Linked DNA regions of Homo sapiens. The protein of the gene in region 1 purifies or fractionates together with the protein of each later gene. This does not show direct contact. Each region holds a gene or a part of one and is shown on either strand. Other genes may lie near its edges.

Region 1 (9,261 bases):
TGAATCTGGCCATTATGTGTCTTGGGGTTCCTCTTCTCCTGGCGTATCTTTGTGGTGTTCTCTGTATTTCCTGAATTTGAATGTTGGCTTGCCTTGCTAAGTTGGGGAAGTTCTCCTGGATAATATCCTGAAGAGTGTTTTCCAACTTTGTTCCATTCTCCCCATCACTTTCAGGTACACCAATCAAACGTAGATTTGGTCTTCACATAAAGACAATTCTTTATACAACAGTGTTAAAAATGGGACTTCTTTTCACATTGTTGTAAATACGAAGCTCACCTGTTGTTTACAATTTTTTAAATTTTGTGTTTTCCAAATGTGCATATTGTACACTTTGGGGGATATGCTTAGTAATGCTATGTGTGATTTTTCTGGAGTTTGATAAGTTTGCTTGCAGTACATTTTCTTTAAAAGAATGGGCAGCTACATGCATACTTCAAAAATATTTTCCTATAAAAAGAAGTTATATAGGTTGTGTTTGCTATCTTAATTTTAGTTGTATTCTTTGATGTTAACATATTTTGTATAATTGTATTTTATAGCTGTATTGAATCGTGTAGTATCAAATATTAGATGTGATTTAATAGTGTTAAATTTAAACCCATTTTTAGTCATTTTTCCAAAACATACTGCCAGATGCAGATGTTCAGTGTAATTTCTTTGCTTGTTCATTTACAGAAAAAGGTGCTCAGTTGTAGAAAGTATTGTACCTTTTAACACCTGATGCATACATCACATGTAACAGGAAAAGCAACAATAAAGTAGCAATCATTAAGAAAAAATACGGCAGAACAAGCTCTATAAGCACAGTCTTATTTTCTTTTGTTATCCAGAATTCTTATGATTCTTAAGCCTCCTAGAAATTGGAAGCTGAATGAAGCAACTCAAGTTTCCTTTATTTTGCACTCGATTACAGCAATTTATAATTTTTTTAAAAAGTTCCTCTGAAGGTATATCTGGATCATGACATTACTGAAGAAGCACCATATCCAGCCACTGCTTTTTTTCATGCAACCAGAGAGCAGAAATAAGGATCAGAAAATACTGAATAGAGTTCAAAGCTCAGAGGTACCAGGTTGCAGCAGAAAACTCCAGGTCTAGTTCTAAAAATGAAAGCTTGCCTTGTTTGAGAAGTTTACAGACTAGGCATATTAGAAGTGTAGTTTGTGATAAAAATAGTCTCATTAATTTCACATCCAGCTCTTTTACTAGTAAGTGTTAATCTGGGAGAAAAATGAGAAGCAACTGGTGACTACTTATATGCAGAATATTTTATTAATTCCAAGGTATTCTGTTAACTTGGTCTTTGCCTTATGATACAGAAGTAGCATTTACAATTTTTTTCAAAAAATACTGTTTGCATATGTTGTTTTGTGATTTAACCTAAATATACAATTTTGTATGAGGTATAATACATCATTATAAAAATGTGAACTTTGAAAATAGTTACAATTATATTGAATTAATTGCTTTTGTAGCTTACAGGCGTTTTTGTACCCCCATTATGAAGGTTTTGCAACTAAATTTATACCTAAAAATCTATTTTCTCCTGGATATATGTTAATATCATTGAAGCAAAAAGCTATGCTTAAATCTGATAAACAAAAGTTTATTTGCATAGAAAAGATGTTAAAGATAATTTTGAAATTAGAAAAACAAATGCTGTAGTGTTTGTTGTTGCTGCTGGCTTGTTTCTTTTTTTGTTTTTTAGCAAAACTCCACTGATGTCTCTTGGCTCCTAAAAACCCACAAGATGAAGTCCAAACACCTAATAGTTTTCTCTTAGTCACTCACGGTCCTCATGTAGTTAAGTCACACTGAACTTCATGCCATTCCCCCAAACACTCCATCCACTTTGTTCACATTGTTGTCTCTGTAATGCCTCTACTCCAGTTTGCCATTTATTCTTCAAAACTAGCTCAAAATGTATTTTTTCCAATGCCCTTTCATGTCTTTCCCAGGAAGAATGTCTCCCCATTTCCATGTCAATTTCTCACATCTGTTTCATCATATTTACATTATAAATATGTCTCCCACTAGTATCCCTCAGCTTTTTATCCTCAGCATCTAAGATGGACCTTGACACATTAGCATATCCTCAATAAAATCTTGAGAACTAAAAATAATAGAAAATAAAGCTTTATCATCAAAAGGCTTGGGGTTAATACAGGAATATTTCACAGGACGTTAAACATACAAACTAAAAGTAGCTGTTTAGAATTATTTGTCAATATTGGAATTGGATGACAAAGAAACAAGGCTTAGAAGTCCAGGGCCAGAAATAGAAAAGTGAGGTTCTGAAGGATAAAATGGGTTACTTAAAAAGGAGATGTAGCTGATGAATGGTAGAAGGGGAAACTTGATTCTTCATCACAAGTCAAATTCTCTTCACATGGCACTCGAGGTTCTCCATGGCTCGGCTCCATCCTGCCTTTTATGCTTTATATTCCACTGTTCACTTTCATGTGTGAAAATACTCTCTATAAACAAAATTCCTTTCTTTCACAAAACACACCCTTCTTTCCTTAGTTTCTATGCCATTGTTTCTAGGATTTCTTTTCCTTTGCTCAAAATTTGGAACAACAGCCACTCTCCTCGTGCGACTTTCCATGACTCTCCACCTGGATTTAAGTTCTGTCTCCCCTGTACCCACCTCTAACTTTACTTAACACCATTATTGTAACAGTAGCTAAAGACAGACTTGGCACCAACCAGGCTGGGTAAGTTTAGAGATTAATGAATGTCAGGGGATAAGTAGGCACAGTAAGGAAGGCAGTGTTCCAAAAGGGAGCAATGGCATTTCAAAGATCAAAGAGAGAGGTCAACAACTCTGGCTGACTCATGCACTCTTGGATTCTCTCCCTTTGAGCAAAGGCTAAGACACGAGTCTCCTCCCAAAAGCGGCGGTGCCCCTCCTTAGTGAGCTTCCAAAGGCAAGAGCGAGGTCTTGCATTATCTTCATCCTTAAGGCTGTCTGGCACCTTCTCAAAGCTGTCCAGGAAGCAGAGGTTGTAATGAATGGTGCTCTTCCAGCCATCCGGAGCTGTCCAGAAAAAGGGGAAATGCTGTCGGGTGAAATTGTAGATCTCCTGCACACTGAGGCCACAGTGGGGGTTGTTTCTTAATGCTAGGGCAATAAGGTGGCTACAATTGAGAGGGGGCCTTTGCCAGGACTTCTCTTGGTTGTTGATTTGCCATAGTTTCTGGCTCTGGTAACATTTCATTTCAGGGGACTGGAGGGAGTTGTCGTCTGGTTCCTCAGCCTCCTCTTCTGTGAGCTCAAAGTCACTGGGGGAATGGATACCCTGCTTCTGTAAAGGAGACTGCTCACTGGAGGAAGATGGCAGAGACTCTACCACTTTGTCCTCTGAGCAGTTAGACCCTTCGTCTTTTTGTGGGGGCTGAGGGAAAGGAGAAATGTTTGTCAGATCCTCTTTTCCACTGGGCTTTGGGGCCTCCTGGCTGCCAAGGGGGCACAGGATATTGGGGTCCACCCACATCCACAGATTGGGTTCACAGGGAGGACCATCTCCATCAGGACTGGGTCTCCTCTTCTGAGGCATTTCTGGGGGCTTCATTACTCCGACTCTGTATTTGGCAAGGATTTGCTCAGCTAAAGAGCACTGGTCTGTGGTACAAGGCAGAAATAACTCATTCCTCATGTCCCAGTCCAGCAGCCCTGGGACCTGGCCATGGAGACTATACCAAAATTCACAGTCTTTTAGTTTTAAGTCCATCTTTACTGGAGAGATAGGTGGAGAGAGACTTCTGAAAGAACAGATATCTAGCAGGCACTTAAAGCTGTCCTTTGGGCATCATTTTTTTATGCAGTGTATCTCATCTAGGGAGCTTATCAGTAGGCCTGCTAGAAGCACTGAAGAAAGAGGCACCAATGTCTCACTGATTAGTGGTCAGACCTGGAGAAACCTCAGCTTTCTGGAACAAGGCTCAAAACATGGAAGTAATAAAAAAGAGCTTTTGAGCAGAAAAACATTTTTAGGTGGAATTCTTGAGCTTTGATTGGAAGCAGAAAGTCACTTCAAGAGGAATTATAAACTGAATTATGTGCAAACTATGGTGACTTGCATAATAGGTGATCATCTGGCACATATTTAAACCCTTGATGAGTTCATTTAAGGAAGGGACAAACATATGTATAGATCACATTATATTTCTGAGTCTTCCTTAATGGTTTTAAAAATCATTTCATTCATCGAGTGCCTTTGGATTTTGGTTAAGTGCTTTCACATAGATGATCTCAACTGATTTTCATCACAGCCCTGCAAGATAACATGGTATTATTATCCTCATGTCACAGACATGGCAACTGAGATATACAGACATGAGTAAGTAGGAGAGCTAGATCCACAGCCCAGATCTTTTATTTTCACTATACGCATTGCCTCTTGATCATACTCAACATACGATATACAACAGGCAGTAATATGTGCAACCTGAGTTTTATAGTAAGATGGTAACTATCAGAACATGGCCTCTATTATTCTCATACTGATACTAGAATCTAACCTTGCTGCCGTTTTCAATCCTTTTCTGGGAAACAGCTGGCTTTCCTCTCTCCAGGTCACCTTCTTAGGAAATGAGTTCTGAACTATACTCTGAACAGTAGGACCAAAATTTAGCCACAGTATGCAAGGTCCTGAAAGCCCCAGAGGTTCTATTTCCAGTAAGTTCACACCCAGGACATTTGTAAGAAAAATAAAATGGCAAGGTTTCCTTTAATTCAGTTTGCACAAAATCCATGTGTAAAGTATGCGATATCATTAAAATCACTACATAGGACTATGTTGCAAACATATCCAGCAAATGTCAATGGGAGCTATTGGAGAGGCACTTTAATCTCCATATTGTTTCCATACTCTGGTTCTCTTCTACTCTAATCTTTCATACAAGTGGCCTGAGTTGTCTTTCTACAGCATAAATACAAAAAACAACACAACAGTTGTACCAACTGTTAATTATTACAGAATGCTGTAAGCACTCTAACTCAAATCTTCAAAATAATCCTATGAAGTAGGTACTCTTATTATTCTTCCTTTACAGAGTAAAAAACATAAGGCACAAAAAAGCCTAAGTCACAGAGCTAGTAAAGGCCAGAGCTGACTTTCAAACATAGGCAACCTGACTGCAGAACACATGCTTTTACTAACTATACCAATCTTCTCTATTTTGGTGTTATAACATAAAATCTTATAACTTAATGCAACATAAAAGTCCCTCCAAAATCTCACCCCTGCTTACCTTTCCAGGGTAACTTAACACCCTAGCTTTCTTGCTTCATACTTCACGTCCAAAAAGTACTGAAATGCTGGGATCTTCACCACACACCCGTTTTTTTCTCATGTCCCTTTGCTCAAAAACATTCGCTTAAAATGGCTTACTACCCATTGCCTTGACTTAGCTAACCTCTACTCATCTTTTAAGACAACAGAAAGCCTTCTCTAATAAAAACGCTGCTTCCATCTCCCCATAGGGAATTAATGGATCTCCTTCCAGTGGGGCACTGATCTTGGAAAAGCAGGAGATTAACTTGAAATATTTAGCTTATTATGCCAACCACGGAGAGCCTGGAAGCATTTTAGTGCTCAGCAGTCTTTTATTCCTTAAATGGGGGCTCTAGTGTTACAGAATTTCTCCTCCATCTTCACCTGGGAGAGTGCTCCAATCCTTAGATATTGGCTAGTAAAACCAAGTTATCACTGTGTATTGTTTCTTTGGGCCTCATTTAGAAACATTCAATATTTACGTATTGAGCATCCACCATGTTCCAAGAAGTATGTAATAGATCTGGCAGATGAGTAAGACACAACCCAAGAGGATATCACAGAGTAATGCGGAAAGACAGAGAAGTAAACAAAAGGTTAAAATACAGTGTGATGAGTATTAGATACTTCAATAGAAGAACATAGAGAGGAACAACTTAACCCAGATAATAGGAATCAAAAGGGATCCCATGGAAGATATTATTTAAGCTTAAAAGACATGTTACCCAGAAGCAGAGATATGGAGAACAGGCTAGCACATGCCAACCAGGTACACATTCAACACAGTATATGTACTATACAAAGCAAAACCCATAAAACTATATGAGTTTTAGAGTAAGATGTTAACCATCAAAAGATGGCCTCCGTTAATCTCAAACACATGTTAGAACCCAATCTTGCTTAAGTGTGCTCCAGGAAAGGAGACAGGGACATTTTGCACATGCTCTGGAAAAGTACTGAAACTCATATTTGTGGGTAGCCTGTTTCCCAGGTCCCAACCTATCCCGAGTGTTGATATAGGCAAAAATGTCAGCGGTTGATGAAACCATATGTTATAAGCAAAAAATGGCACAACAACATAAAAAGTTGGAAAAAGTGGTGGGAACTCATAATGACCTTAGAAATACCTCTTCAGCATGGGCATGCTTATGCTTGCTCTCTTATACACATACACACACACACACACACGCAGTCCCAATGGTATGATTTGGCTCTGTCCCCCACCTAAATCTCATGTTGAATTGTAATCCCCAATGTTGGAGGAAGGACATGGTGGGAGGTGATTGTATAATGGGGATGAATTTCTCCCTTGCTGTTCTCATGATATTGAGTTCTCACAAGATGTTTTTTTGAAAGTGTGTAGCACTTCCCCCTTTGCTCTCTCTCTCTCCTGCTGTCATGTGAAGATGTGCTGGCTTGCCCTTCACCTTCTGCCATAATTGTAAGTTTCCTGAGGCCTCCCCAGCCATGCCTCCTGTACAGCCTGTGGAACTGTGAATCAACTAAACCTCTTTTCTTTATAAGTTATCCAATCTCAGGTAGTTCTTTATAGCAGTGTGAGAACGGACTAATACACCCAACAACAGGAGCAGCAGTAGAAGCAGTGCTGTTACCTGCCTTCAATTTTCAAAAGCATTCCTGTGCCCAGATTTTGGTCCCCACTCAAAGGACTGATAAGGAGGGTAGCTGATACACATTTTTGGGCAGAAAAAAGTCAGCAATATTAATAAAGACTCTTGTTACAATAAAAATTCTTTCAAGAATGTCAGGAGCAGTGTTGAAAGGATGAAAAGTCACCTTAAAGGGGCTCTCATTACCAAATTGTAACTTTTTATTTTACCACATATGCTATGATTAATTGAAACTATTTTAGTCTGTTAAATGCTGTAAGTACATGATGATACTCCTAAAAGTAAAAAAGGTAGTTGTGGGCTGGGTGCAGTGGCTCATGCCTGTAATTCCAGTGCTTTGAGAGGCCAAGGCAGGAGGATTGCTTGGAGCCAAATGTTTGAGACCAGCCTGGGCAACAGAGTGAGACTCTGCCTCTGTAATTTTTTAAAAAATCAGCTGTGCATGATGGCATGCGCCTGTAGTTCTAGCTACTCAGAATCCTGAGGTGCGAAGATTGCTTCAGCCCAAGAGTTCAACGCTGCAGTGAGCTGTGATGGCACCACTACACTCCAGCCTGGTCAGTGGAATAAGACCTTTTCTCTTATAAAAAAAAGAAAAAAAGGTACTTGTAATGAAAAAAAAAAAATGCCATAGGATATTTAAGATTTGTTGCTTTTATATACGAAACTGCTAAATATTCATGGGTACTTTTTTCATTTTAAGTATATGTCTTTTGTAAAGCATAGATATGTACTTGTTTCCATCAATGGGCAATCAGGAAAGAATACAGGAAAAACGATGAGTAAGCTATATGTGGTTCCAGAAAAACAGGTACAATACCAATGGCTGCTGTGTATAGTTGTATAGGTTGCATGCAGCCCAAGGGTGCCTGTGATGGTTAATACTGAATGTCAACTTAATTGGATTGAAGGATGCAAATTATTGATCCTGGGTGTATCTGTGAGGGTGCTGACAAAGGAGATTAACATTTGAGTCAGTGGGCTGGGAAAGGCAGACCCACCCTTAATCTGGGAGGGCACCATCTAATCAGCTGCCAGTGTGGCTAGAATATAAAGCAGGCAGAAAAACATAAAAAGACTAGACTGACCCAATCTTCCAGCCTACATCTTTCTCCCATGCTGGATGCTTCCTGCCCTAGAACATCAGACTCCAAGTTCTTCAGTTTTGGGACTCGGTCTGGCTCTCCTTGCTCCTCAGCTTGCAGATGGCCTATTGTGGGGCTTGTGATAGTGTGAATTAATACTTAGTAAACTCCCCTTTGTGCGTGTGTGTGTGTGTGTGTGTGTGTGTGTGTGTGTGTATATATAGCGAGACAGAGAGGTGGGGAGACAGATAGAGAGCGCTCTGGCATTGGCTAATTAATCATGGTGTTCTAGAAGTGAAATTGATAGGAAGCCTACTGCATTCCTACTTAATTTATATAAGCAGAAAACTTCTAGGTCGAATGGACAAAAGACTAATTTGAATTATGAAAACAGAAAATCACGGCCTCTCAATCAATTTCTAGACTTGAGCCAGTTTACAGACCCGAACCCCTTGAATGAAGAGGAGGCCGAGTCCCCTTGAGGAAGGACCCCATTACACTACTGACAATTTATGCTGTTAATCTTTCTCCCATCCTTCCGCAAGGAGACCTCCGGCCTTTTACCAGGGTAACTGCATTGAAGAAACGGAAATGATCAGACATTTTGGGGACTACTGGAAACTGGCTCTGAGCTGACATTGATTTTGTGGGACCGAAAACGTCATTGTGGTCTTCCAGTTAAAGTAGGGGCTTATGGATGTCAGGTAATTAATGGAGTTTTAGCTCAGGTCCGATTTACAGTGGGTCCAGTGGGTTCCCGGACTCATCCTGTGGTCATTTCCCCAGTGCCAGAGTGTATAATTGGTATACACATACTTAGCAGCTGGCAAAACCCCTACATTGGCTCCCTGACTGGTAGGGTGAGGGGTATTATGGTGGGAAAGGCCAAATGGAAGCCATTAGAGCTGCCTCTACCTAGAAAAATAGTAAACCAAAAACAATATCGCATCCCTGGAGGGATTGTGGACATTAGTGCCACCATCAAGGACTTGAAAGACACAGGAGTGGTGATTCCCACCACATCCCCATTCAACTCTCCCATTTGTTTTGTGCAGAAGACAGATTGATCTTGGAGAGTGACAGTGGATAATAGTAGGCTTAACCAAGCGGTGACTCCAATCGAAGCTGCTGTACCAGACGTGGTTTCATTGGTTGAGCAAATTAACACATCTCCTGGTACCTGGTATGCGGCCACTGACTTGACAAATGCTTTTTTCTCCATTCCTGTCCATAAGGCCTACCAGAAGCAATATGCCTTCAGCT
Region 2 (4,843 bases), on another chromosome or scaffold:
CTCATCGTCTAGGAAGGGGAGAGGGATTGGAGAGTAAGTTCATAATTGATCATACCTACAAGATGAGGCTTCTATCAAAACCCCTGAACTTTCAGGTTGGTAAACACGTGGAGGTGTCCGGAGGGTGGTGTGCCAGGAGAGGGCATAGAAGCTCCTAGCACCTTCCCCCTTACCTTGCCCTATGCATCACCTCCATCTGGCTGTTCATCTGTAGCCCTTGCAATATCTTTTATAATAAATAGATAAATGTAAGTAAAGTGTTCCCCTGAGTTCTATGAGCTGCCCTAGCAAATTATGAAACCCAAGGAGAGGGAAAGTGGGAACCCCAATTTGCAACCAGTCGGTCAGAAGCACAGGTCACAACCTGGGAATTGCAATTGGCAATTGTCACTAACACAAAGGCAGAGCAAGCAAAGAAAGGGAATAAAGCATATAAAAGGTTCTCAACGTGGAGAGCTTTCAAAAAATATACTTCCTGGGATCCATTTCAGACTAGTCCTACTGGAATTTATGAGATTAAAATACTGACACTAAAATTTCTTCAAGATTCCCAGCTGATTCCTATAAGCATCCAGGGGTGAGGGCCACTGGTAACACAAAGGTTAAAAGAGGAGAGAGGAGGCAAAAAGACCATCAGAAAGTGTTATTTGTGATTACCAAGTTCTATATTAAAGCCTCACATTTTCCATTTAAACTACACTCTTAAACACAGTACCCTCTACTGGTCAGGAAGGGTTATCTATTATTCCTAGGTTTAAGGTACAGAAGAAATCTCCAACTTCCTTAATTAAGGAGAATATATGTAGAAGCAATTAGTGAATCTTTATTATTTCTACATTTTCTTATTATTTAAGTGTAAAGTGGGCTGGAGAACACTGTATTAGCAAAGACGATTCTAAACTTAATCTCAATAGGTAAGAGCAAGATATCTATTTTAAAAATGTGTAACGGGCCAGGTGCAGTGGCTCATGCCTGTAATCCCAGCACTTTGGGGAGGCCAAGGCAGGAGGATTACTAGAGGCCAGGAGTTCAAGACCAGTCTGGGCAATATATAGCGAAACTCCATTTCTATAAAAAAATAAAAAATTAGCCAGGTGTGGAGATGCACCCCTGTACTCCCAGCTACTTGGGAGGCTGAGGTGGGAGGATTGCTTGAGCCTGGGAAGTCTCAGCTGCAATGAACCATGATCTCGCCACTGTACTCCAGCCTGAGCAACAAAAGAAATTTTTTAAGTGTACTTGACTTTTCTCAAGGTTTGTCAACTTTAGCAACTACTGACATTTTGAACCAAATGATCTTGGTTGCAGAGTGCAAACTGTATGTAGATGGTTTTAGAATGTTCATAAGTAAGTTTTTTAAAGACATAGAATGCTACTGTACAAATATAAATTGTGAGTTTTAAATTCATTTCCCTTTAGTGTCTTCAACTAGTTACAAGACCATAAATTGATGCTGATGTTCCGTGCATTTTAGGATCTTTAGCTGTATTCCTGGCTTCTACCCACTAGATGCCAGTAGCAGCCCAACCCCAAAGTTGTAACTCCAAAAAGTCTCTAGACATTGCCAAATGTTTCAAATCAGTAATTTATCTAATCAAAGATGTTCCTAAGAAACTGATAATCAAAATATACTTTTAATTGTAAAAGATGATCCATTCACTAATGTTCTAAAAATGTAAATTTTTATATATCAACTTCATAAAGAATACCTTACAGTATCTTGTAATATATAAATTAAGAACAAGAAAAAATGAGTTTTACTTTTCTTTAACAGTGTTGCTTGGCAATATATTAATTACATATTAAGTCTATGAAGTAAAAGTTTAACCTACATCTACTGGTTGCTTTAATTTTTCACTTAAAGACCAGACCAAAATCAAAACCTTGGAACTTCTACTTTTCAACCTGAAATAATCAAACAATAACTATAATCCTAAAATAGCACTGACACAGTAAATATTATTCTTATGAGTGTTAATGGACGACACTGATATATCTCATATTGTAATCAATTTGAGAGTTGCCACTGAAATCAATTAAAAATGTTTATTCTGAAAGATGCTACTATAAAGTTTATAGACTCAAATGCTTATAATGCTTAATCAAAACTAAATTTACAAAAAAACCTAGAAACAGGTTGAATTGAAACCTGTAGATCATTTTATAATATTCATGAGCAACAACTTTTTTAAAGACAAAGGCTACTGTTTTAATATAAATTAAGAGCTTTAACATGATCTCCCTTTAGTGCTTTTAATTGTCACATGGCTGTAAACCAAAGACCCCTCCAAATTTTAAATGATCACTGATACTACTTGAGCAGAAATTCTCAGGTGTCAGTACTTTTAATGTTGTGTACATCAAATTACAGTACAAAGATGACTATAAACAAGATGCAGCCCTCGGTTTCCATGAACAGCACACTATTACAGTAAACCAAGTTTATATTCCACCATCAAGTGTGGCTCTCCCATGACTTCGCTTTGTGATGGATCTGAAAGCAAACAAAAACAAACATTTTAAAAGACTCTCAAAAAAGAGATACATTCAATGATTCTGCTTACATAAGAATCCAGAAGAGTCAAAACTAACCTAAAGTTATAGAAAACAAACCAGTGATTGCCTGGGGCTGGGGTGGGGTGACTGACTGAAAAGGGACCAAGGGAACTTTGTGAGGCAATGAAAACATTCTACTCCTCTGTTTAGGAGACCAGGTTCCATGTTAATTAAAACCCACAGAACTGTACACTTAAAAATAGGTGTACTTTATTGTATGTCAATAATATCTCAAAATAGTGGATTTAAAAAGAAAAAACAGATTGACAAAAGTTTTTTTTTCAAAGTTCTTAAGTTTTCTAGTGGCTTCCCACAGGACGGGAAACAATCTCTTAATTCACAAAAATGTTTTATCTGTATTGTCTTCTGACCTGTTGTATCCACACAAACGTAAGAATTCTTAAGAAAGAAAACCTTTAAAAATCATCACTTTTGTGTTTACAGATGAGTCAGACAAAAGCCTTATTTTAACTGTGATTATACACCTAAAAGAACTTTTAAAATTAATACCAAGCATAAGCTTCCTAAAGACAGAGACTTTTTCTTTGTCCTCTACTCAACATAGGACTAGAAACAGAATAAAAACCTAATGAACTAAATCGTAAAATCACTTTGTAAAAATGAATAACCCTGCACATAATAATGGTGGCTACCAAGAGGAACAGTTCAGTACAATGTGGATGTTTCCTCACTGGACCTCCTAAGAGACTGGAGATTAATAAACTGCTGTGTATATAAAAGGCACTCAAAACCTCAACTTAAAAAAAAAAAAGGCAATATTTTTGACTACATAGAAAGACACGCAGAACAGTCTGGAAGGACAGACTAAACCAAACTAAAACAGCCGGTAATTAGGGAACGAGAAAAATGGGATTGAGGGTCACTACAGCAAATCTGAGTTTCAATGGTAATATTTCAAATTTTTGCACAAAGAATATACTCATTTATGTAACTAAACTTTTCTCCACACCCTGCTTTTTAAAGCTTCTTTAATAAAATGCATTTATTAAATAAATCACTTGCACCAAAAGACAGCATATCATGTAAGCAAGGCACTGGTGGAGACGGGTTTTGCATCTGTTGTACCACAAGCTCGCCGTGAGACTCTGAGTGAGGACTGAGCCTCTGTGAGCTTCCATTTACTCATCTTCCAGTTAGGGGATTAGAGTACATGAAAGTCCCCTTCCAGCATTAAGAAAAAGTCTATTTTTGATTCTACTAGTGTCCTTATACGTCCTTCTTAATCTTGTAAAATGTACAGAATTAACTTGCCTAAGTACTTCACTGATAAGCAGGCAAAAAAGTCATCATCTCCAATACTGTCACAGTCTTTACACAGTATTTAGATTAACAAGCTACTCTCTGATTATAGACTTAACACTGTGTTTTGTGTCAAAGGTGATAAGAATGTGATCAACATGACCCTTAACTATGGATCAAGCCCCCTATCAGGTACTGGGAACACAACTGTTAACAAGAAAAAAATCTCCAGCTCTCCTGACACGTATATTTAAGTTGGACAAATAATAAATAAGAAAAATATCACATAAGTGTTATGTAAAGAATTAATATAAGGCAGGGTGACAGAGCGGGGATTACTTTAGATTAGGTAGTTGATATGGTTTGGATGTTTGTCCCCTCCAAATCTCATGTTGGAAATGTGATTCCCGGCCAGGCGCGGTGGCCCACGCTTGTAATCCCAGCACTTTGGAAGGCCGAGGTGGGCAGATCACGAGGTCAGGAGATCGAGACCATCCTGGCTAACACGGTGAAACCCCATCTCTAGTAAAAATACAAAAAATTAGCCAGGCGTGGTGGTGGGCGCCTGTAGTCCCAGCTACTCAGGAGTCTGAGGCAGGAGAATCGCTTGAACCCGGGAGGCAGAGCTTGCAGTGAGCAGAGATCGCGCCACTGCACTCCAGCCTGGGTGACAGAGAGAGAAAAAAAACAAAGCCATGTGATTCCCAGTGCGGAAGGTGGCCCTGTAGGGAGGTAACTGGACCACAGAGTTGAACACTTCATGGATGGTCTAGCACCACCCCCCGGATAAGTGAGTTCTTGTTCTGAGTTCACACAAGTTCTGGTTGTTTAAAGCTGTGTGGCAGCCCCCTCACTCTCTTGCTCCCTCTCGCCATATAATTCACTGGCCCCCCTTTGTCTTCTGCCACGATTGTAAGCTTCCTGAGGCCCTTACCAGAAGCAGATACCAGCACTATGCTTCCTGTACAGCCTGAGGAACCATATGCCAAAATAAATTTTCTTTACAAATTACCCAGCTTCAGGTATT

The links.
Region 2: the proteins of FOXR2 (region 1) and POMP purify together in Homo sapiens (affinity purification with mass spectrometry; 3 studies listed by BioGRID and IntAct, with this or other methods). This does not show direct contact.

The regions. Positions count from the first base shown.
Region 1 is NC_000023.11:55,618,188-55,627,448, reverse strand, and holds FOXR2 (forkhead box protein R2), read right to left. Parts: upstream 4,050-9,261; 5' UTR 3,738-4,049; coding exon 2,802-3,737; 3' UTR 1,257-2,801; downstream 1-1,256.
Region 2 is NC_000013.11:28,675,686-28,680,528, reverse strand, and holds the end of POMP (proteasome maturation protein), read right to left. Parts: intron 2,495-4,843; coding exon 2,427-2,494; 3' UTR 1,570-2,426; downstream 1-1,569. UniProt on the Homo sapiens protein: Molecular chaperone essential for the assembly of standard proteasomes and immunoproteasomes. Degraded after completion of proteasome maturation. Mediates the association of 20S preproteasome with the endoplasmic reticulum.